Linked DNA regions of Homo sapiens: regions 1 and 2 are each linked to region 3. Evidence: fine-mapped expression QTL. A gene starts in region 3. Each other region holds a variant in brackets. All regions are shown on one strand. Distances are between the middles of the regions.

Evidence for each region. PIP is the estimated chance that this variant, and not a neighbour inherited with it, causes the effect. A credible set is the group of variants that fine-mapping cannot tell apart.
Region 1: its variant is the best candidate, but not a certain one, in a credible set for the expression of SPOCK2 in whole blood (TOPMed, PIP 0.87).
Region 2: its variant is the best candidate, but not a certain one, in a credible set for the expression of SPOCK2 in whole blood (INTERVAL, PIP 0.72).

Annotation. Positions count from the first base shown.
Region 1 is chr10:72,057,548-72,065,723 of GRCh38, forward strand. SPOCK2 (SPARC (osteonectin), cwcv and kazal like domains proteoglycan 2) reads right to left here. Exons shown (of 11, transcript NM_001244950.2): 9 at 6,631-6,693; 10 at 5,478-5,615; 11 at 1,487-5,358. The coding sequence ends at 5,213. Among named protein-coding and RNA genes, the nearest start is that of SPOCK2, 27 kb to the right of the region's middle. The variant G/T (reference allele first, on the strand shown) is at 4,938.
Region 2 is chr10:72,028,637-72,036,812 of GRCh38, forward strand. LOC124902448 (a long non-coding RNA gene) reads left to right here. Exons shown (of 2, transcript XR_007062187.1): 2 at 1-283. Among named protein-coding and RNA genes, the nearest start is that of SPOCK2, 56 kb to the right of the region's middle. The variant AC/A (reference allele first, on the strand shown) is at 4,948.
Region 3 is chr10:72,084,650-72,092,825 of GRCh38, forward strand. SPOCK2 (SPARC (osteonectin), cwcv and kazal like domains proteoglycan 2) reads right to left here and starts at 3,902. Exons shown (of 11, transcript NM_001244950.2): 1 at 3,491-3,902. The coding sequence starts at 3,679.

The sequences.
Region 1 (8,176 bases), 27 kb before region 3:
AGTCGTTCCAGCCAGACGGGCAGAGCGTGCCCTGGCTGCAGGCTGGCACCGGGGGCTTTCGCTGTTTGGAAAGCACGGGGGCTGGTTACCACAGGTGATCCATCCAGCAGATCCTGGCCCAAGGCCACAGTTAGCAAGCTCCAGGGCTAGAGATTAGAGCTCCTGTGCCCAGATTCCATCCCCCTCCACACCGCAAACAATTTGTTAAAAGACACGTCTAGTGAGGGGTTGGCAAGGCCCAAGAGAAGAAAAGTCACAGAATAATGACGACAGTCCCCCAGCTCAGATAATCCCAGAAATAAAAGTAAGACATTTAGGTATTCTTCTGCCACACTGGCCAGGCGTGGTGGCTCATGCTTGTAATCCCAGGACTTTGGGAGGCCAAGGTGGGCAGATCAGCCTGGCCAACAGAGTGAAACCCTGTCTCTACTAAAAATACAGAAATTAGCCGGGTATGGTGGCACACACCTGTAGTCCCAGCTACTTGGGCAGCTGAGGCAGGAGAATCGCTTGAAGTGGGGAGACGGAGGTTGCAGTGAGCCGAGACTGCACCACTGCATTCCAGCCTGAGCAACAGAGCAAGACTGTCTCAAAAAAAATAATAAAAAATAAAAATACATAAAAAAATAGAATCATGGGCCGGGCATGGTGGCTCACGCCTGTAATCCCAGCACTTTGGGAGGCCAGCACGGGAGGATCACTAGAGGTCAGGAGTTCGAGACCAGCCTGGCCAACATGGTGAAACCCCGTCTCTACTTAAAATACAAAATTAGTCAGGCATGGTGGCGGGTGCCTGTAGTCCCAGCTACTTGGGAGACTGAGGCAGGATAATCACTTGAACCTGGGAGGTGGGGTGGCAGTGAGCCAAAATCGTGCCACTGCACTCCAGCCTGGGCGACAAAGCGAGACTCTGTCTCAAAAAAAAATTTAAAAATTAGAATCATAATGCTAACAAGCATGTAAGGGCCCGATACATACTCCACTAGCGGCGCTGTCTCAACTGGTTTTACCTTTCTCACAAGCCGTTTGCTAAGAGGTGGTTGAAGTCTTTGAAAAGCTCATACCCTGGATGAAAATGCTCTGGAGTTGGATTGTGGTGACGGCTGTATGACACTGCGAACGTACTAAATGCCACTGAATTGTACTGTACTGTATTTTTATCTTTTAAGAGATAGTCTCCCTCTGTTGCCCAGGCTGGAATGCAGTGGCACGACCATAGCTCACTGCAGCCTCAACCTCCTAGGCTCAAGCAATCCTTAGCCTCACCCACTGCCCCTCCTTCTCAGCCTAATTTTTTTGTTTTGATAGATACGGGGTCTCACTATGTTGCCTAGGCCAGTCTCAAACTCCTGGGCTCAAGGGATTGTCCTGCCTCAGCCTCCCAAAGTGCTGGGATTATAGGTGTGAGCCACCACGCTCAGCCATAAATGCTGTTTTCGTGAAAAATAATACCAAGGGTAAGAATAATCAGAGTATTGCCAGCAGATGGTGTTTATAAAGTTTTTATTTTCCATTTTCTTAAAAATAACATTTGATTTCCTTTATGCATGTGTGGAGTGTACTTGTTTCCTTAGGCTGAGTAATAGGCAGATAAAGACGACACGAGGCAGGGTCCCCAAGTGGAGGCGGGGCGGGACGTGAGAGGATGGGGGCGCAGGGGAAAGGCAGGGCTGGATGACTCACGGGACTCTTGAGTGCCCATCAACGCACACGCACACAGTCTAACACTTTGTTTTTCAATTTTTTAAAAGACATCTAAAATTACTGAGAGATACAATTTCAGCAGTTAAATCTACAGACGGAAATCCAAGCACTTGAACACAATTCCTAACTCTAAGCTCAGTTATTGCACATCACACAGTTTAAGCAGGCTTCAGGCTGGAAAGCAGTTTGCTCTGCTGGGAACTTCCTCGGGATGTCTGGGTCTCCTTCTGTGGTGTCTCTCCCCTGGGACTGCCGCCAGCCCGCAGCCTCTCGACGACCCCAGGTATCAAAGCTCAGCCATTTGTTCTCCCCAGGGGCTGAGGGCTCGGGCTTTGGTGAAGCAGAGGGTCCCCGTGTTGATGCCAACGGACCCCACCCCCTCCAAAGTGAAGTTGGAAGCAGGTGAAGCTCATGGAAGGCTGAAGGCAGGCGGGCTGGAGTGAAGGGGGGTGACCACCCCCCACGTGTGGGACAACAGGGGGCAGTCAAGATGCCGCCACCCACCACCCCTCCCTTCCAAGCTCCCAGGCCATGCTTCCTTCTCCATCACCCTTGGACCCTCTCTGAGTGGTCTCTCAAGGCACATTTATTTTCTCTGCTGCAACCTACCAGATCTGACATCCACCTCCCCCAGCACCCATGGGCCAAGGAGGCCTGGGGCAGCCAAGGGGAGTTCCAGGACCAAGCAAGCAAGAAACCGTTCTTTGAACACATGGTTAAGCTTCTTCCAGCATGGCCCTAATTCCCCTACCTGCCTAAGCCAGGGGAGTGGGGGCAGGAAGGAGCGAGGCATCGAGGAGAGGGCACTGGAGGGGCTGGGTGGCAGGCCCCTTGGTCAAGGTCACAAATCAAGGAGCTGAGGAAGGACCGATCTGCAACCTTGCTCATGAGGAAACCTTAACCTTGTCTAACAAAAAGCCACTTTGAGGCCGCCCTTCAGCTCCACAGGGAGCTGCTGTTTTGTCTACCTTTTGAGGGGACCAGTCTCAGTAGGGCGAAAGGCAGTGTGGGGGCTTCGGAAACAGGCAAGGCTGGACCCCTGCAATCCTACCAGAGGCTAGTTCAGTCCCTTTTGCTTTCTTCCTAAAACATATTTACAAGGACACACAAACGTGCACAGCCAGAAGACCCAGAGACAGAGAGAGCACGTGTCCCAGGAGCGGAGGGTGACATCAAGAGGACAGGGGACACCCTTCCTCTGAACTCCTTCCTTCCCCAGGCCCCCCAGCATCCTTAACAACCCCCACCCCCACCCCGAGGAGGAAAGTTCCAGAACTCCAGCTGGGACAAATGGAAGAGATAGGTAGACTCCAATCCTAGCAAGAGCAGAAGTTTCAAGTAGCTCCGAGTCAGAGGCGCGGCTGCCTCAGAGAGCAGAGGGCTGATGTGGAACAGCATTTCCCTGAACTGAGCCGGGGCTGGAGTGGGGAGGTGAAGGACAGAGAGAGGACAGGAGAAAGAGGGGACTGGGGGACCTGGAACGACGCGACACCTCAACAATCAGAACTGGGCTGCGGAATGGGAAGCAGTTTATGGAGTTAAGTGGGGCTCTGCTATTTCCCCCAAGAAGGACTCGGAAGATGTTGATTCCAGGGCAGAGTGAGGGGCAGACAGGATGAGGCTCTTCTGTAAAGTCCAACAGACGCTCACAGATGCTGGGAGGCTGGGGACTGCCAGGTTGGGAGCCTCACCCAGAGAGCCTCACTGCATTGACCCCACACCCACCACTCACCCAGCACACAGGGGGCCTCTCCTCACGCTCCCAGGCCACCAGGATGGCCCCCAGGTTCACACACAGGCACACGCACACACGCTGCACTCACCACGCACTGAAGGGCATCACAGCCCCAAGTCTGGGTAAGAAATTCTCCACCAAAGGTGTTAAGGAATTTGCTTTGCTGAGGAGAACTGGATGGGTGGGGGAAAACAGCAACAAACAAACAAAAGAAATGCACAGGGCCTCTTCTCATCTGGTGAGATGAGCTCACACTGCTCAGGGGATGTTGGGGAACAGCGAGGTGTGAGGTGTGGCCTCAGAGCCCGGCTGCACCTGTCCTGTTCCCTCTGACTTCTCACTTTTCCACATTGCAGGCTTCAAAACAGAGCTTGGGGAAGCCCCTCTGCGGGGCAGCCCTAGGGAATCCTCAGAGGGGCCAGAAGGAAGCCCTGGGGGCTGAGGGAAGTGGGGCTGGACATGGCCTGTGGGTGGCTCTCCCCTGGCAGGAGGAAGATCATGGTCTCAGAGTGCGGAAAGGCTGCAGCTTTCGGCAGCTGCTTCTCTCCGGGGTCTCAGGGACAGCTCTCTCTGTTGGTCTGGGCAGGACAGGAGTGTTAAGGGTCAGGGAGGAGGTGGGCACACACCCCCTTAGCCTAGACCCAGGCTCCTTGCCTGCTGCTCCTGGCCCTCAGGCGCCCTCAAGTGGATGAGGGGACCCCAGCAAGGGGGATGGAGGCAGGAGTTGCACCAAGGGGGAGCCAGGCAGAGGTCAACTGTGTAACCACCACCCAGTGTCCCCAAGAGAGCAGCCCAGATCATGGCTCCACCACGAGACCCAGAGAAAAGGGACAGGCTATTCCAGGGTCTAGGATTCAGAGCTGCCCCATCTCAACACCTAAAAGCTCCCCCAGGCTCTGCAGCCACAGCCTCCTCCTGCTGAGCCGACCCCCTCTCCTCACCCTGTTCTACCTGCACCACCTGGGCCACCTGGGACAGACCTCAGACAGCTTGGCGAGGCACCCTGTCCCTGGCCTCTCAGCTGCTGCCCTCCTCCTCTGCCGCCACCACCTTCATTCTCCGCCTTGGGTTAGGAGAGCTTCTCTAGTGTTTGGGGATCCGGCAAAGGGACAGGGCTTGCTGTGGCTGGGCGTCCTGGCCCGTCTCATCTGAGGCTGGTGGGGATGTCACACCACATCGGCCCAGTTTTGGGAGGACCTCAGCTGGTAGACAGCTCCCTGCCCCTCCCTCCCCTTTGCAATGGGGACAGGCTCGCAGGCCAGAGCTTGACCTCAGAAGCAAGAGGGAGAAGGGCAGACAGGGGTCGGTTGAGCCAGGGTAGAAACCAAGGGGAGCCAGGGTAGAAACCAAGGGGTCAGGGCTGGGCTGGAGGACACGGCTGGGGGATCTCATTTCATGGATTTTGACCTGTCAATTTGTATTTGTGTGTGAATGTATTTTAAAACCAACAACAAAAGGAAAGAAAACAGCTACAAGGAGGCCGAAGGGGCCTTTGGGT[G/T]ACTCACTCTGCCAGGAGCAGTGTGGATCAAGGACACATTTGTCAGCGCATGCCACACACACACACACATACACACATGCATGCACACATGCACTCACACTGTCACCCGTCCCAGCCATCTGTGCCACACACATGCCATGCACACTCACACTCCCAGTCCCCCCAGGTGGAGCAGGGTCCTTCTGACTGCATTTCTGGATCCGTTCTCGAAGTTGCCTGCTGCTGCTCAGAGCTCTGCTGTTGAGTCCCCCCCGGCAGCCGGCTCCTGAGGGCGTCTACCAGATGTAGCCCCCGTCGTCAGCCTCGCCTGCCTCGCCCTCCTCCTCCTCGGCCTCCTCGCCTGCTTCCTCCGTCTCCTTCTCCTCCTCATCCTCCCAGCCGACACCGCTTCCAAAGTCCCCCGAGAAGCCCACGATGTCATCTGTGAGGGGATCAAGCCAACAGGGGGTGAGGGAGCTTCTGGCACGCACCCCCCAGCATCCCACGACAAGGGCCCCCAGGCCTGGGCCCCCAGCAGGCCCTGAGCTGCCCAGCCCGTACCGCAGTCGGGGCTCCCATGCGTGCGCGTGCCAGTCAGCTCCAGGCCCAGCTGGTCCACACACCAGCAGTCACCGCTGCTCTGGTCACACTGCATCTTCCGGTAGTAGCCATCCTCGTCGCAGCTCGGGATGAAGATGCCTGAATGAGACAGTGCCAGGCAGGGTCAGAGCAGGGGCCCAGGCTGTGGGCCCCTCAGAGAGGTGACCTCAGGTCCTCATGCATGAGCAGAAGTCTATACACCCCCAGAGCCCAGCCAGACCGGGTGCTGACCCCCCAACAGGCCCAGATGCTGAGAGCTGGACACCAGCCAGCAATTCTTTCGGCTCTACTCGCTGGAGATGAGGAAACCCGCTTCCTTGAACCACTGCTCAGGCCCCTGTGCTAGCTCCCAGCCGCCCCATCAGTTTCCCTGACTCCATGGCCCAAGTCTTCTAGGACAGCCAGTCTGACTTCACCAGGTTTGACACTCTCCATCCTCCCACAGTTCCGCCGGCCTGGCTGTCCCCTGCTAGGAAGGCCCAGCCTTCTCCTCCCAGCCACTCTGAGTCCGACCTGCCTCCGGGGCCCACTTGCTTTCCTGCAGGCTCCCCAGCTGAAGCTCCCAGGCGCCTGTGTACAGGTCACACTGCTAGTTCTGTCTTTTTAGTGTGTCCATTTGTGTGTTGTGTGTTTCCGGACTGGCCCGAGCTAAAGGGTTATGAGGCCAGGGAGTGCATCCTTCTTGCCATCCGCTCAGAGTTGGGCTGGGTCTATTGCTGTTGTATCTCTGGGGCCGGCCCCCAGGTGTTTATGGAGCATGTGAGTGAGTGTCACTCAGGGAGTGGCCTCACTAAAACATTAGTCACACCCTTGCTGAAGGAAACTGAACTCAGTGGAGGGTTCCAGGATCCTTCTGTATCCCAAACTCTAGCTCCAGCATGGATGGGCATAAAATTAGTGCCTAAAACACACTTTTCCCGGGGCAGATTGGGAGTCCCTGCCCCACCACAAGGATAGACACAGGAAGGGGGCAACCCTCTTCTGTCTTCCTAGGCCAGGGCCTCCTCTGGGCTCCATGTCTGCCATGAGGCCCAAGGCTGGAGGCCCTGGGTCTCAGACAAACCCAGGAAGCCGTCCCCACCTCCTCCTCTGAGAGCCTGGTCTGGCCCCTCACCTGGCTTCTTCTTGGCGGCCTCCTGGATCTGGATGCGCTCCAGCTCTGCCAGGCAGGGGGGCTCTGTGGGGAGAGAAGCAGCCTCTGATGGGACTGTCCCCTGGTGCTGGGGGGATGCACTGAGCCCTTCAAGGCTTAGAGACCCAGGCAGGGGCTCTGCAAGATGAAAACACCCCGTTTCTGACACGGGGTCACCCCACAGCAGGGGTGGGAAGTACAAGGGTTCTATGGCACGAAAACGCTCACTCTCTATTTAGGGGAGCTCATTCCACAGCTGTGGATGACCTGAGGTCCCCAAGAAGTCCTAGGGACCCATGAGAGGAGTAACAGGATTCAGAAGAGGAGGTGGGGTGAACACACAGACACCCAAGTATGAGAGAGCCCAGGGGAACGTAATGCTAGAGGGAATGTTAGAGAGAACTCCCAGGCCTGAAAATACAGCCACGCGCTACACAACAACACTTCAGTCAACAATGGACGGTGGCCCCATAAGATTACAACACTATTTTTACTGTACCTTTTCTATGCTTAGTTATGTTTATTTTTTTATTTTTTATTTATTTATTTTTTTGAGACGGAGTCTTGCTCTGTCACCCAGGCTGGAGTGCATTGGCGCGATCTCGGCTCACTGCAAGCTCTGCCTCCCGGGTTCACGCCATTCTCCTGCCTCAGCCTCCCGAGCAGCTGGGACTACAGGCGCCCGCCACCACGCCTGGCTAATTTTTTGTATTTTTAGTAGAGACGGGGTTTCACCCTGTTAGCCAGGATGGTCTTGATCTCCTGACCTCATAATCTGCCCGCCTCAGCCCCGCAAAGTGCTGGGATTACAGGCATGAGCCACCGCGCCCAGCCTTATTTTATTTTTTGAGATAAATAAAATAAATTTTTGCTCTCGTCGCCCAGGCTGGAGTGCAACGGCACGATCTTGGCTCACTGCAACCTCTGCCTCCCGGGTTCAAGTGATTCTCCTGCCTCAGCCTCCCAAGTAGCTGAGATTACAGGCACCTGCCACCATGCCTGGCTAATTTTTGTATTTTTAGTAGAGACAGGATTTCACCATGTTGGTCAGGCTGGTCTCAAACTCCTGACCTCAGGTGATCCACCCACCTCGGCCTCCCAAAGTGCTGGGATTACAGGCGTGAGCCACCGCGCCCGGTCTATGTTTAGCTATGTTTAGATGCACAAATGCTTACCATTGTGTTACAACTGCCTGCAGTATTCAGCACATAACATGCTGCACAGGTTGTAACCTGGGAGCAATGGGCCAGGTGCACAGGAGGCCGCACCACCAAGGTCTGTGTAAGTACTCCTATGATGCTTGCACAGTGACAAAATCACCTAATGATGCATTTCTCAGAATGTATCCCCCTCGTCAAGTGACGCATGACTGTAACCGGCAGCCAGCCTCTAACTTGTCTGCGACCTTGGGAAGTCCCCACCTCTCCAAGCTGGAAGCCTGCCTGGTTGTAAAATGAGGACAGTTCCCGGCCTCCTGCCCAAGAAAGTACAGAATGGATGGAGTGGCCTTCAAAGGCCCAGAAAGTCA
Region 2 (8,176 bases), 56 kb before region 3:
ACTGAGGACAGCAGAACTGGATAGACGTCTCCTGAGTCCTTGATAATTATGGAGGCACCACGCTAGCCTTGGACAGCCTATCTCTGGAATGTGTGTGAAGTTTGTGTTTCATAATGTTGCTGTAATTTTGGGTGCTCTATTACTCAAGAGTGAATCTAATCCTCGCTAAATCAGAGGTGTCACACGTCGTGCCACTACTCATTAATTTGGGGCATTAGATTTACTTTCAAATTGTTGTTATTCTAAATAGCATAACATGAACCTCTTTATGTAAAAAACTCAATCTGCATCTCTGGGGTTTTTTTTTCTCGTACTCTATTATCTTCCTAGGATACATTTCTGTTAACAGAATTTTAGCATCAAAGAATATCTAGGCTGGGTGTGGTGGCTCACGCCTGTGATCCCAGCACTTTGGGAGGCCAAGGCGGGTGGATCACCTGAAGTCAGGAGTTCGAGACCAGCATGGCCAACATGGTGAAACCCCGTCTCTACTAATAATACAAAAATTAGCCCGGTGTGATGGTAAATGCCTGTAATCCCAGCTACTTGGGAAGCTGAGACATGAGAATCACTTAAACCCAGGAGGCAGAGGCTGCAATGAGCCGAGATCGCGCCACTGCACTCCACCCTGGGCGACACAGTGAGACTCTGTCTCAAAACAACAACAACAAAAATCTACATTTTAGTATCTCTCAATTCATGCTGCCAACTAATGTTCTTTTTGTTGTTGTTTTTGTTTTTAAAAAATAATAGACATGGGGTCTCCCTATGTTGCCCAGGCTGGTCTCTAACTCCTGGGCTCAAGCAGTCCTCCCACCTGAACCTCCCAAAGTACTGAGATTACAGGCCTGAGCCACTATCCCAGCCTACCAACCAATGTTCTGAAATGGTTGTACAAATGACATTCCTGCCAGTTGCATATTTGAATGCCTATTTCACAGTTCCTGCACTAGTACAGGAGGCAAGGGAGTATACGCTTTCTGTCCCCCAGCCATGCCCTTTGAACCACTCTGGACTTGAGCTGCAGCTGGGCAGTCTCTCCTGTCCCCACTCACAGCTTCCCCCTCTCAGGTGCCAGTAACATCTCCCAATTTCCTGACCCCAGACTTTCTCCAAAGCTCCAGAAGCTTACTCAGCTCTCATGCAGGTGAAGTGTGGCAAGGAGTTAGTGCCCCAAGGAGACGAGAGATGCTGAAACACACCTGGGTGTTTTTTATTTGTTTGTATTGGTTTTTTTCCCTTTTATTTTCAATTGACATATAATAATTGTATATATTTATGGGATACAGAGTGGTGTTTTGATAAGTGTTGGTTTTGGTAGTGATTTATAAAAGAGGAATAACTGAGTCAACTGGAGCTATTTTTGAGGATAGAGGTGAGGACCAGATAATAACAAAATAACAATAGCAATTATTTGTTTAACACCTACTCTGTACCAGATACTGTTTCGCTGTTGACGTAAAACAATCTTGGCCAGGCGTGGTGGCTCACGTCTGTAATCCCAGCACTTTGGGAGGCTGAGGTGGGCGGATCACCTAAGGTCAGGAGTTCAGCCTGGCCAACATGGTGAAACCCCGTCTCTACTAAAATACAAAAATTAGCCCAACCTGGTGGTGCTCACCTGTAATCCCAGCTACTCGGGAGGCTGAGGCAGGAGAATCACTTGAACCCGGGAGGCAGAGGTTGCAGTGAGCCGAGATTGCGTCATTGTATTCCAGCCTGTGCAACAGAGCGGGACTCCTTCTCAAAAAAAGCAAAACAAAACAGAAACTAAACAAAAATAAAACAATCTCTCAGCAACTCTGCAAACTAGATTATTTTATTATTCCCACTTTGCAGATGAGGAAACCAGGGCTTGGAGGTGTAAAGTAACTTGCTCAAGGTCTTGAAGTTATGAGGCTGAAGCAATACGGCTTGAACAAAGACTGAGCCCCACCTCGTCTGAGGTGGCGGAATATGAGGAACATGGTCTTAGGAGGGAGGAAAGAGTGGATGATCCGAAATGAATCCCAGTTTCCCCTACAAAATATGAGGGTCATGTGCAGGGAACCCTGACCAGTCCTCCTGTGAGTGTGTGTGTGTGTGTGTGTGTGTGTGTGTGTGTGTATTAGGATGGATGGGACAAAGTGATACATTACAAAAAGCCGGGAGAAGGAGCTTGGTCCAATGCTAACCGGCGCCATGGGAGTGAGGCTCCTATCTTCCTACAGAGAGTGGGAGCAGGGGCCCTATCTTCGGGGCTTGGCTGGAACAAACAGTTCTGGCGGCAGCCTTGTGTTTGTTCTCTCGGGCAGGCAGCTTAAGGGGAGGCAGGGTCATCCTGGACTGCGGCCTTGAGCTGTTGCAAACACTGCCTCACCTCCCGCCTCACCCCACGCAGTGCTGGAACTCTGGGCAGGGGGACAATGGTGGGTCTGTGAGGGTGTCAGGTTGTCAGGAACAAGGCTGGTGGCTTTGAGCAAGTTGTGCAACCCCTTCCAGCCCCAGGTACTCATCCTTCCAGTGGAGGATGTCACGGCTGCCTTCACAGGAGATGGAAAGATCAGCCCCTCTCCCAGCTTCTTGTGGTTCATTTGCCTGACTCTCCTGAGCCTCCGCTCAACTCCTCCCCATTTCCTTCTTCTCCCAGTTTTTTTGTTTTTGTTTTTTTTGTTTTGGGGGTTTTTTGTGATGGAGTCTCACTCTGTCGCCCAGGCTGAAGTGTAGTGGCGCAATCTCGGCTCATTGCAGCCTCCGCCTCCCGAGTTCAAGCAATTCTCGGGCGTCAGCCTCCCAAGCAGCTGGAAATAGAGGTGCCCACCACCACACCTGGCTAACTTTTTTTTTAATCTGAAAAGCCAGTAAAAATGCTGAGAGGTCCCTCTGCTACCAAGGTATGTGGGCACGTGGAAGGGGTCAGCTGCCTTGTCCAGATGCTGAGGGGCTGGTAGAGAGAAACATCAGCAGATGGGAGGGCTGCTACTGTCCCACAGAGAAGGGCCAGCTTGAAGCCATGGGCTTAGGGACCCAATGTTTGGGCTGACTGTTGTTAAGAACACAGTTTTGACGTTCCCCTGAGCTGAGTTCCCGTCCCGGCTCACAGTGCTTCCCTGGCTGGGCAACCTGGGGCTTGTGATTGTCCCTTTCACAGCCTCAGTTTTCTCAGCCCTGAACGTTGTGAATGTTGTGAGATTTGAATGAGATAATGCAGACAGAGCTTAAAAAGAGGCCGGATGCAGCAGCTCGCACCTGTAATCCCAGCACTTTGGGAGGCCGAGGCAGGAGGATCATTTGAGGACAGGAGCTGGAGACTAACCTGGGCAACCTAGCGAGATCCCATTTCTATGGAAAATTTAAAAATTAGCCCGGCGTGGTGGCATATGCCTGTAGTCCCAGCTACTTAGGAGGCTGAATCGGGAGGATCACTTGAGCCCAGAACATCGAGGCTGCAGTGAGCTGAGATGTAGCCACTGCACTCCAGCCTGGGCAACAGAGTGGTACCTTGACTCCAAAAAAAGGCGGACAGGAGGGCTTAGAAAAGAGCTTGGCATGTAGAAAGCCCTCCAAATGTTAATTTATAATTATGGCAGGGATGAATTTCAAAATCATAAAGTGCTCACAGACAACAAGCTGCCTTGTCCACAGAGATGGCTGCAATTCCTCTGGAATACTGGGGGAGGGTGAACAGTGATGACTAAATCCCCCTCCTCTCAGGCCCCAGGACTCCAGGGCAGCACTCTTCTTAGCCCTGGGTGTGTGGGGGGGTAAAGCATGGGACCCTCCTTCCAGTCCCCACTGCCAGCCTCCCTGGCCCCCCAACACCCTGTCCTGCTCTGTGCCAGGAGGCTGCTCACAACCCCCGGAGCACCTTATTCCTGTGACTGGGCCGAAAGACGAGGCTGGGCGCAAGCCCGGAGCCCAGTGATGTGTCACACGTGAATCTGTCACATGTGAAGACACAGAAACAGCCCCTTGGCTGTTACTAAAGGGAAAAGAGGCCAGCAAGGTGACTCACACCTGTAATTCCAGTGTCAGAGGCATGTGAACCAGAGCAGCTCCATCTTGAATAGAAGCTGGGTAAAATGAGGCTGAAACCCACTGGGCTGCATTTCCGGATAGTTAAGACATTCTAAGTCACAGGATGAGACAGGAGGTCAGCACAAAATGCTGGTCATAAAGACCTAGCTGATGAAACAGCTTGCAGTAAAGAAGCCACTAAATCCTACCAAAACCAAGATGGTGACGAGAGTGACCTCTGGTCATCCTCACTGCTACACTCCCACCAGCGCCATGACAGTTTACAGATGCCATGGCAACATCAGGAAGTTACCCTATATGGTCTAAAAAGGGGAGGCATGAATAATCCACCCCTTTTTTTTTTAGCATATCATCAATAAATAACCATAAAAATGGGCAAACAGCAGTTCTCAGGGCTGCTCTGTCTATGGAGTAGCCATTCTTTTATTCCTTTACTTTCTTAATAAACCTGCTTTCACTGCACCGCAGACTTGCCCTGAATTCTTTCTTGCACGAGATCCAAGAACCCTCTCTTGGGACATGGGGTGGGGACCCCTTTCCTGTAACATTGGCACTTTGGGAGGTCAAAGTAGAAGGATAGTTGGAGCCCAGGAGTTTGAGACCAGCCCTAGCAACATAGCAAGACCCCATTTCTACAAAGAAATTAAAAAATGTATTAGCTGGGAGTGGTGGCATGAACCTGTAGTCCCAGGTACCCAGGAGGCTGAGGCAGGAGGATCGCTTGAGCCCAGAAGGGCGAGGATGCAGTGATCTGTGATCGTGCCACTGCACTCCAGCCTGGATGACAGACCTGTCTCAAAAAAATAATAATAAAAAGAAAAAGGAAAGAAAAGAAATGCTCCTTTTCCAAACCTTTCCCCTGAAGAGAGCCTAGCCTTAGACTCTGGCCCGTTCCCTCCCAGGCACTCCAGACTCTTGTGTCATGGGATG[AC/A]CCCCCCCCCCACACACACACACACCAGCCCTGTGTCTCTCCCTGGGTGCTTTTCATCCCCGTATTAATTCTCCAACCTTTGTTGGTGAATCCTCCCCACTCCCCGCATATGATCTCTCACATGGGGCTTTAACTGATTTTAAAAAATAACATGAACAAACAGTGAAACTAAAAGCACAGCTATGTTGAAGCCTGGTCCTCTAACCTAGTTTCAAATAATAATAATGATAATGATAAATACAGCTATTATTTATTGTGCTTTGTTGGAAGGACATTAGACAATAATTCAACATTCACAAAAATCCTGGGGTAGGTATCATGATCACCTGCATTTTACAGATAGGAAACTGAGTCATGGAGACATTAAGCCACTTGCCCAAGATCACACAGATCAAGGGAAGATTGTATAAAGCCCCTTCCCACACCAGCTGCCGCTTCCCGACTGCAGAGGCTCAGGGTGCTCTCTCTGTCCTCAGAGGCTTGTGTAACCATCTCTGTGCCCCGTTGCCCGGCCTGGACATTCTTGCTTTCAGGCGTGGGCACAGGGATCCCTCCAGTTGGCCACAGGCAGGAGCATTCTGAGTGAAATGCCAAGCCTGACTTAGAAAACTCTGCCCCAGACAGCAGCCCGATCATCCGCCACTGGTCGCCTTCCTGTGTTTATTCTGAGGCCACCATGCCTGACAAAGGCCCCTTGTCCTGTCCAAGAAGGGGACAGATTTTTAAGGACATGGATTGAGGATATGGGCTATTTATTACCAGGACTGGTTCCCTCTCCCGGAGGCGTAGGAGTTGCTGTCACGGTCTGTGTGGAAGTCGATGCTGGCCTTGCCGCCCCCTCCCCTGCTTGCTGGCCCAGCTCCCTGCCCACACTCAGATCCACCTGACAGTTTCCTCCACACACACATGCACGTGTGCACAGCTTGCCAGGGTGCAGGGCAAAGCGAAAGGGTATCTCCTGAGTCTATAATGGCCTATAGGATTCCTGCACACCTAAAGTCATTTGCAAAGTGGTGGTGCATGTGGACATGTGTGTGTCAGTGTCGCATATGCAGGACAGACTACAGAAGTTGCAGGGCCCGGGGCAAAATGAAAATGTGGCACCCCTTGTACAAAAGCATTAAGCATTTCATGATGGCAACAGCAGAGCATTAAACCAAAAATGGGGCTTTTGTGAATTTGGGGTCCTGTGCAACTGCCCAGGCCATATGCCCAGGAAGCAGGCCCTGCACACACATGTTGTGTTTACACCAAGGCACTTTTCTGGTTAAAGGGCTCCAGGCTTCCATTAGAATCTCAAAGGGTGGCAGCACAGTGGCTAACACCCATAATCTCAGCCCTCTGGGAGGCTGAGGTGGGCGGATCACTTGAGGTCAGGAGTTTGAGACCAGCCTGGCCAACATGACAAGACCCCATCTCTTCTAAAAATACAAAAATTAGCCCTGTGTGGTGGCACATGCCTGTAAACCCAGCTACTCCAGAGCTGTACTCTTGTGCCTCAGAATCACTTGAGCCGGGGAGGCAGAGGTTGCAGTGAGCTGTGATCGCACCACTGCACTCCGCCTGGGTAACATAGTGAGACTCTGTCTCAAAAAAAAAAAAAAATCTCATAGAGGTCCAGGATACTCCAAAGGTTATAAACCATTTAGTAGCAGAAGGTCAGTGTCAGACAGGCCTGGGTTTGAGTCCCAGGCACGTTACTTATCCCCTGCAGGACTGGACTAAGTTCTGTGCCCTTCCGAGCCTGTTTCCTGGTCTGTAGAAGGGGGATTGTCATAACACTGACCTCCCAGTGCAGGAGAGATGGGAGCCAGCTCGATACAGTATGTGGCATGTTTCAAGCTCCCAGTCAGTGGTTGGTTAGTTAACCTTTAGTTAGGTCTGTTCTGCTTGTTATTGTGTGATGTCACCTAGAAGTTTCTAAATCCTCCTGCCAGTTTAACCTCAGCTAGCTGTGCCTTCCGTGGATGTCCCCAGCAGGCCCAGCACAAAGCATGGCAGGAGCTCTCGGGGACCCGAGTTGGCGTTTCTGTCACCTGGTCTGCTGTGAAAAGGGGTGGGCTGCACAGGCTCAGCTGGCCTCTTCCTCCGGCCCTGAGCGTTCGTTGGCTGACCTGACGGATCTGCTGTGCAGTATCTGTACTGTAAGAACATGTGACGGGGCAGCAGCCTGAGAGGACCTAGGGCTGGCGGATGCAGGGTTCTAGGCTGAGCTCAAAGGGTCTGGGCCCCTACCTGATAGCTTCTGAGTCAGTGTCACTCTGGACAGAGCCTTTTTCCAAAGCAGGACACCCAGGAGAGGGTTCTCAGGAGACCTGGGGCCCAGTGGCCCTTGGTGGCTGTATTTCCCCTCCAGTGTGGTAGCTCCTCAGGGGTCTCTGTGCTGCCTCCCCAGTTGTCCCCACTGGGTCTGCTAGCATCACAGGGAGAAGCCCCCTGTTACCTAGTCACCCCTTCCCTCCTTTCCCCAGCCTGATCTCCTAGTCCCTCCCCTCCTCTTTCAGGGCAGAGACTCCCAGTGGAGAGGAAGGAGGGGGACACCAGGCTCTAGGGCCTGAAAGGAGGGGCTGAGACGCCTGGTGTGACCTCACCTTGGGACATTACAGCCCCTCGGGCCTCCATTTCCAAGGCTGTAGCGTGCAAGTGAAGTCTTCGCTTCTGCCCCGGGGAAGCCCTGCCCTGTGCATCCAGGGAGGCTTTTCCAACACACACAATGTGCATTTCTTTTCTTTCTTTTTTTTTTTTTTTTTTTTTGAGACAGAATCTTGCTCTGTGGCCCAGGCTGGGGTGCAGTGGTGCAATCTTGGCTGACTGCAACCTCTGCCTCCCAGGTTCAAGCGATTCTCATGCCTCAACCTCCCAAGTAGCTGGGATTACAGGCGCAAGCCACCACGCCTGGCTAATTTTTGTTTTTTCAGTAGGGATGGGGTTTCACCATGTTGTCCAGGCTGGTCTTGAACTCCTAATTTCAGGTGATCCACCCGCCTCGGCCTCCCAAAGCGCTGGGATGACAGGCGTGAGCCACCGTGCCTGGCCACGCAATGCGCATTTTTGAACTGATGAGAAATGGAAAGAACCAAAGGTCCACCACGAGGGGAGGGGCAGACACATGGCTGGAGAGTCCTATTATGAAAGGTATGCAGCAGTCAGAAGCTAGGTGGGCTGACAGAGAAAGGTGTCCAGGAATTTTTTGTTTTGTTTTGTTTTTTTGTTTTTGAGGCAGAGTCT
Region 3 (8,176 bases):
TTCCCTGAAAAGCAAAATTAAGTGAGATGACTTGGATTCAAATCTCAGCTCTGCTACTTACTAGCTATTTGACCTTTGGGTAAATTACTTCTCTGTGCCTCAGTTTCTACAACCATAAAATGGTAGGCTGTAAAGTAACAATAACTATCTCCCAGATCCTTGAGAGGCACAAGAGACCACTCAAATTAAAGTGCTTTAATTTGATTTAATTTAATGGCAGATGTGAGTGCTCACTGCATCAGGGATTCAACTTATATGAACTGTGCGCCTCCTGGGTGCCAAGCACTGTGTTAGACACTCATAAATATAATGAAAACTTCATAGAAGTGGAGTACAAAGTAGAGAAGAGCCAAGAAGAAAGAGAACAGTCAGCTCTTCGTAGCCAAGCTCTGTGGAGCCTGCCCTGAAGAATGCTGTATAATGGACCTGTCTCCTCCAAGTGTCCATCCCTCTAGGCCCTAGATGCTTTGTTCCAAAGACCTGCATTAAATTCCACCCAGTTGTGCAGGGAGTGAATTGGGAGGTAGGAGCATCGAAGAGCAGGGCTTGGAAAAGCCCAGGACTGCCCAGGGCAGGGTACAGCTAGATCTGTAGGCCAGGGAGCCAGGCGGAGTCCACAATCTCCCCCGTCTTCTGCCAGAATCCCCTCCTCCCTGGCAGCCGGGCACCCAGCATTAGAAGAGATCGACCCAGGCACAGGCTGTAAGAGCCCTCAGCCCACTGGAGGGGAGGATTACTCAACTGGTAAATCCTGCCTTCCCTATAATCCTAGTGCTCAGAGAAAGATGCTAAGCTGCGCTCCCTCTCAACCAGCTCTGGCCAATTCCAAAGTGGAGCAACTCCCCAAGTTTTCATGCTCTTCTTCATTCTCCTGACCCTTTCAACCTGATTCCCTCAAGTTCCCCCTTCAGTTCTGTCCACACCATGTGAATGAGGCATTTCCCTCCCAATCCTGTTCCCCAAGAGTATCCCACTCGTCCTGCTTGCCTCCACCCTACTAGGACAAATAGGGGGGCCCTGTACCATTTTGGGGTTATGAACAAGGTCCCAGTTCAACCTTGTAACCCCTTAAGGGGTTCAAACGAAATTCCCCTCTCTCCTTTGAGGAACCAAGGAGCATATTTTCCAAAGAGCTGGCCTAATGGAAATATAAAGCCCGTTGCTACTGGGCCCAGTTAGAGTGCCTTCAGCCCTTAGGCAGGAAGTAGGGCTTCTTCTGGCAGAAGAGGGATATGTTTGTAGTGCTGGTGGGGACCCTGTGTACTGTCTGGGCACTGCACAACTTCAGGGGGCACCATTTCTATTGTGGCACCCCTAGAGTTATGCAATGCAGTGGCTCTGAGCTAGCAGCCTCCTTCCTGCCTTTCTGCAGAGGCTGTCAACAGATCCCCAGGGCCAGGCCCTCTTGCCCAGCCTTCTTTGTCCTACTTCTCTCCCTGACCCTGTCCTCCTGCAGCCAGGACTACCTTAAATGGGGTTTTAGAGGACATCTGTCCTACAAAAGCCTGAGGCTACCAAAATCAACACACACCTAAAGCTTTCCCATGAATCTTACATGTGCAAGTCCTGAAGACTTTCAAATCTAGTGCCTTTCTTCTGATGAGCATGAGAGGAAGGGGGAAGTGGTTGGCACCAATACAGAGAGACAGGTGGGTAGCCCAGTGCCATGGGGTCAAGCAGTAAGTCATTTATTCTCACCCACGGAGCTGGCTATTGGAAGCAGGTGGAAGAAGGGAGGTGGGGAGGAATCTTTTATTTTAAACCTTTCCTGTTCTGATTAAGCATTTCTTTTCCCTCTGACCTTCACTGGTCCCATTTTGGCAGATCAAACAGCCAGCGAGTCGGAGGGAGGCCTAGGCCAGTGACACATGGATTCCGGATGGGCCGGCCTGCTGCCGCCCCCTCGCTGCTGTGGCCGGGCTGCTGCCCAGGAAGCGGCAGGAGACTGCGGCTCATCTGCGCTGGGCCTGCAGGTGCTTCGGGAAGGCCTCGCGGGGCTCCAGGCTCCTGCGGCTGGACAGGTCGCATGTGGGGCGAAGGCGGAGATCAGCAGCCCATCGCGGGGCCCGGCCACTCAGCCTGGAGACCTGGCTGCCCGTGGTTCCTGCTGTCCTCTGTGAATTACAACCTGCCAGTTTGACTTTGGGGAGAAACAGTCACTTGTCTGACGGTAACAAAAAGATCCAAATCTCTGCCTCTTCCCATCACTTGGCTGGATAGCCTATGAAGCATGTGTGTTTTAAACAAATTTCCAAGGAACTTGTGGATGCACGCAGTTTAAGGAGAAAACGGGAGAGGTCATGGTGTGGCCTGCGTTGTACTGGGTGGGTCGGACGAGGGAACCTGGGGAAGGAGGAGTAAGGGCCAGGGTCCTAGAAGAGGTTTTCTGGGGTCAGGGCCGCGGTGAGCACCAGGTCGCCAGGAGCAGCCGGCGTCGCCTCTGGCGCATCCGGGCCCATCCCCCACAGCACCCCCAACGATCTCGGGGTCCAGCCACACCCTCCGCCCGCCCTGCCTCACCCCTGCTTCCCCAGCCCCCAACCCGGCCCGGCCGAGAGGAAGGAGCCAGCCCCGCCGGGCCGCCGCCTGCGACTTCCCCTCTGATCCACAGGTGCCGGTAAACAAAAGTGCCGCAGCTACCCCCCCGCCCCCACCCCGCGGAGTTCGGCCCAAGGTTACGCCGGGGTTCGGGCGGCGCCCGCCGGGGGCCCCCAAACCCAGCTTCTGGACTCTCCCCGGCTTCTCAAGCCCACCGGGCCGGGAGCCTTCCTCTGGCTCCGAGCTGCTCCCCTCGCTCCAGGCTGGATTCCCCCCTGAAATGTTGGTCCGGGAAAACCAGCCTGGGTCCTCGCGCGCCCTTCTGCACGGGGACCCCAGCCCACCCCCGTACGGACACGCCTTCCACCATCTCGCCTAGAAGGCTGCTGGGACCCCAGACCCAGAGCCCCGGTCACACTCCCGTCCCATGCTGTCCCCCTCCCGCAAAGCCCACGGTGGGAACAGAGGGCACCGCGCGAGCCGATGCCACCCTCACTGCCGGCCCCACCCAGACCTGCCGGTGCTGCAGTGCCCCGTATGTGCAGCCTGCAGCATCCCAGCGGCTGGGGCAGGCCCGGGGGCGGCTCGCACAACGCAGCTGGGGACCGGGTCGGGGTCCAGCGGCAGCCGGGGTCCGGGTCCCCCCGGCCCCGCACCCCTTCCCACTCCCGGCCCGCAGGGGAGACCCCGGAGCGCGCGACCCCGGAGCGTCGGGCAGGTGTGGAGCTGGGGGTCCCGGGGCTGGGGGGTCCCAGGGCCGCCGGCCCGGGCCGCAGGGACAGGGGAGGGGCGCTGGGCTGTGACCCCCAGTACTGTTTACTTTCCGTGTAATTAGCCGGCCAGGCTGCGGAGCCTCGGGCTGCGACGTGCGGCGGCCGCTCCCGCAGACCCCGGAGCTCAATCCCCGAACCCGCAACCCCGGGTCTCTGCCTTGGCAGCCCTGCGGACTCACGTCTCGGAAGCGGTTCCAGTGCTTGATCTTGCCGCTGTACTGCGAGATGGACGACAGCCATTGCTCGTCCTCCATGAAATTGCCGGGGGTCTCGCCCTCCTTGAGCCCCTTGGCGTCGCCTTCGGCCAGGGCTGCCGCGGCCAGGAGCAGCAGCGGCAGCACCAGCCGCCCGCAGCCCGGGGCGCGCATCGTGGTCTGGGTTCGACCTGGGGGGGTCTTGACTTCTGCAGTATTTTAATGTCCTTCCTCCCACCCCGCTGCTGGCGAAGCGCACGCGGCTGTCCTCAGCTCTCCTCCCGCGGTCTGCCTCCGGTGACTGGCGGAGAGTGGGTCGCGGCTGAAATGTGACCTGGTTAGGAGATGCACTTGTCTGAAAAAGCCCAGCACTGGACGCGGAGAGGGAGAGAGAATCAGAGAGGCTGCGCCAGCAGGGGCTGTAACTGTAGCATCAGCATCACGTTTGACATCATCATACCTGGTTTAAAAAAAAAAAAAAAAAAGGAGTGGGTAGATTTCAAAGCGAAGCGCTCCCTCGATGAGAGCGCCAAACGCCAGCCAGCCGCAGCGGGGCCCAGCCCCGCCTGGCACACAGGGAGTTGCAGACCAAGAAATCCAGAATCCCGAAATGTCCCTGAGCTCCCTCAAAGGATGGAGAGCAAGAAGGGCCCCAGGATCTCCCCGGGGAAGATGGGATGGGGGAGAGGGCACAAAACTCTCCGGTTACAAAGCCAGCCAGGCTCAGGTGTCGGAAAGGGAATTTGGCCAGACACTGTTTTTCTCCCCTTGCCTCCCACCCAGAGGGGCCTGCGCCACAGCCCTGACAGCTGGCTTCCTGCGAGTTATGGCTCTACCGTAATGGGTGGCTTCGTTAAGACAAAAGCCGTATAACAACTGGCTGCTCAGAACCATTGCTCCCCAGCGGCACCGCGTTGCGCAAGGCAAGGCCTGAGCACTGAGTGGCTGGTGAAACAGAGGCAGATGTCCTCCTCCCCAGGCAGCTGTTTAGGGGCTGTCACCCGTTTTGTCAGCTCTTCCCAGGACAACCCTAAAAGGCAAATGTCTGACCATTTCATCTGCCTTGGAGGCTGCAAATTTGGAAAAGGCATATTTGCTTATGGTTTTTTGACTTCAAGTTAGTTTGAATAAGCCACTGGGGAAGCCGGGGAGTGGGGGGCTGGGGTGGGGTGCTGGTTTTGTTTGAGGTGTTTCGGGTTTTGTTGAAACTGCGACCCTCCTTATTGGCTGTAGATTTAAATGTTGACATACCAGCGGGGAAGGCTGGAGGCTGGCCACAGTCCCAAGAGCACAGCAGAAATGGGGACAGGTTTACATTACAAATACATTAAAGAGGAAACATCATCTGATGGGACAAAACCTAGTGAACTTTTGGGACCCAAGCCCTAGATTGTGTTTTTATAAAAAGACTTAGCTGCTGTGATCTAAAAATAAAATAAAAATTTAAAATGCTTTAAAAAACATAATCTTAATCAGTAGGAAAAAACATAGCTTACAAGGTTCCTTGTCACCCTGAATCTGGCCTATCTGGGAACTCTGAATGCCTCAGTGGCTCAGGCCGGAGTCTCGTTGGGAAAACAGAAAACAATAGCTCCCTTTCCATGTTTTCTTGTTTCCTTTGCTGTTGGATTTAGTGGTGGTGCTGCAGTGAGGCCCTGGCCATTGACGTCTTCATCTCACAGTAATAAAGCATTCTTCCTGGGTGTGTCCTGGCGCTGTACAGTGAGAGAGCACGGCTTGCTGTCGTGGAGACTAGAGGACAGAATCCCACTTACTGGCTGGATTCTTGAGCAATTACCTATTTTCTATCTAAAACTAATGGTAATACCATCATTAAAACTGCTGTAAAGTGCAAGCAAAATTACATACTAAGTGGGCATAATGGGCATTTTTTTAAAAAGTTAGTCTTTCCTCTGGTTGGGAAGAGAAGGCTACGGTGTCCCATAGTTCTGAAGATTCATCAAAATTTGCCATCTTTTCCACCATCTCAATCCTACAATCCTAGTTTTTTGTTGTTTTTTTTTTTTTTGTTTCTGTTTTCGTTTTTAGCAAAGCTAGCTATATATCTCTAAGGCACTTAGGAGATAGGTACCAGATACCACAGCTCTCCCATTCCTGTGCTATCTTAGGGGCTTCCAGAGTTACCAAAGTTGCTGAATAAAGAGTTTGGAAAGGTGCTGTCAAGATGCCCATCAATATGACAATAGCTGTCTCCAGACTCTGAGGGTCAAAATGGCTCCCACAGTCCCAGGTAGCTTCTCCAGTGGGACTTGCCTTCTGTAGCACCTTCAAGCTGGGTCAATACTAGTCCTGTGTCGAAAGCTAATCAACAACATTCCAGTCCCATTAGTGAAGCCAATAGTAATGCTATTTAGGAAGAAGAACCCAAATTTCCAGATGACTGGTGTAAAACTTGTAGGAAATGGCCAATAGTTTTAGTTTACAAAGAAGAAAAAAAGGGCCAGGTGTGCTGACTCACACCTGTAATCCCAGCACTTTAGGAGGCCAAGAGGCAGGAGGATGGCTTGAGCCTAGGAGTTCCAGACCATCGTGGGCAACATAGCGAGACCCTATCTCTATACAAAATTTAAAAAATGAGCCACGTTGCACATGCCTGTGGTCCCAGCTACTCGGAGGCTGAGGTGAGAGGACTGCTTGAGCCTCGGAATTAAGGCTACACTGGGCTAGCATCGTGCCACTGCACTCCAGCTGGAGAAACAGAGCGAGACTCTTTCTCAAAAGAAAACAGAAAAGAAGAAAAAGAAAAGGTTTTTCAATTTTTTTTTTTTTTTTTTTTGAGATGGAGTCTCACTCTGTCGCCCAGGCTGGAGAGCAGTGGTGCGATCTCGGCTCATTGCAACCTCCGCCTCCCAAGTTTAAGGGATTCTCCTGCCTCAGCCTCCCGAGTACCTGGGATTACAGGTGCCCGTCCCCATGCTCAGCTAATTTTTGTATTTTTAGTAGAAATGGGGTTTCACCATGTTGGCCAAGCTGGTCTTGAACTCCTGGCTTCAGGTGATCCTCCCTCCTCAGCCTCCCAAAGTGCTGGGATTACAAGCATAAGCCACCACACCCAGCTTGGTTTTCCTCATGTTTGAAAGAATTACTGGCAGGTTAGCCTTTTCAAGACAATAGCCCCAAACATGAGGAGCTGCTGCTAGGTATATGTATTAAGTGGTACATATATTTTACACATTTTTCTGTTTGCACTTAATATTTAGCAATTCTAAAATGGAGAAGAGAAACCTTAGTTTCCTCATAAGAAACCCAAATTGAATACATCGAGTTTCGCTCTTGCCCAGGCTGGAGTGCAATGGCGCGATCTCAGCTTACTGCAACCTCTGCCTCCCAGGTTCAAAAGCAAATCTCCTGCCTCAGCCTCCCGAGTAGCTGGGATTACAGGAACGCACCAACACACCCGGCTAATTTTGTATTTTTAGTAGAGATGGGGTTTCTCCATGTTGGTCTGGCTGGTCTCAAACTGATCTCATGTGATCCATCCGCATTGGCCTCCCAAAGTGCTGGAATTACCAGCATGAGCCACCGTGCCTGGCCTGAATGTATCTTAAAATCCATTTAATTCCATTTCTAGATGACCCCACAAGCACAAAAAGATAAACACACAAAGATCCAGAATTGTTCATAATAGCCCATCCTGGAAACCAATTCAATGTCCATTAGCCAGGAACCACCTAATTAAAGGATAAAACATACCTGTAACAGACTATTGTGCAGACATTACAAATAATGATGTAGATCTGTATCTATTAAAGACCAATGTGATCCACTATGTATTGCTGGGTGAGAAAAGCTCGTTATATAAGATCATATATAATAGGATCCCATTTGGAAGTATAGTATAGTATAGCCATTCTCAAACTTTCTGGCGTCAGGAGCCCTTAACACTAAAAAATTATTGAGGACCCCAAAGAACTTTTGTTTCTGTGAGTTATATATATAGTGATATTTACTGTATTTGAAAATCAAATTAAGAATTTAAATTTATTTTAAAATAATAAATGTACCCATTTCATATTAACAGAATATTTTATGAAAAACAACCGTCTCTACCGCTCCCCCAAATTAGTAAGAGAGTGGCACTGTTTTACAGTTTTACAAATCTCTTTAGTGTCTGGTCAGAAGAAGACAGAGTCTGGCATAAGCTTCTGCATTACAGCACGTGTATCCATTGCTGGGGCTGCCGTAACAAAGTACCACAGACTGGGTGGCTTCAACAACAGACGATTATTTTCTCACAGTTCTGGAGGCTCAGAGTTCAAGATCAAACTGTTGGTGGGTCTGGTTTCTCCTGAGCCCTCTCTTCATGGCCTGCAGGGTGGCCGCCTTCTTGCTGTGTCTTCGTTTCCTCTGTGCACACACTAGTCTGGTGTCTCTGTGTGTCCAAATTCCCTCTTCTTATAAAGACACCAGACAGATTGCATTAGGGCCGACCCTAACAGCCTCACTTTAACCTAATCACCCCACTAAAAGCCCAATCCCCAAATAAACAGTCACATTCTGAGTTACTGGGAGTTAGAGCTTCAACATGTAGATTTTGGGTGGTCATGACTCAGCAGCAGGTATAAATGAAAATAGCCAGTAAGAGCACAGTAGAAGCACTGGCAGCAAACTGAGTTAATCTCTGAAAACACATATATTTATACCCTAAAT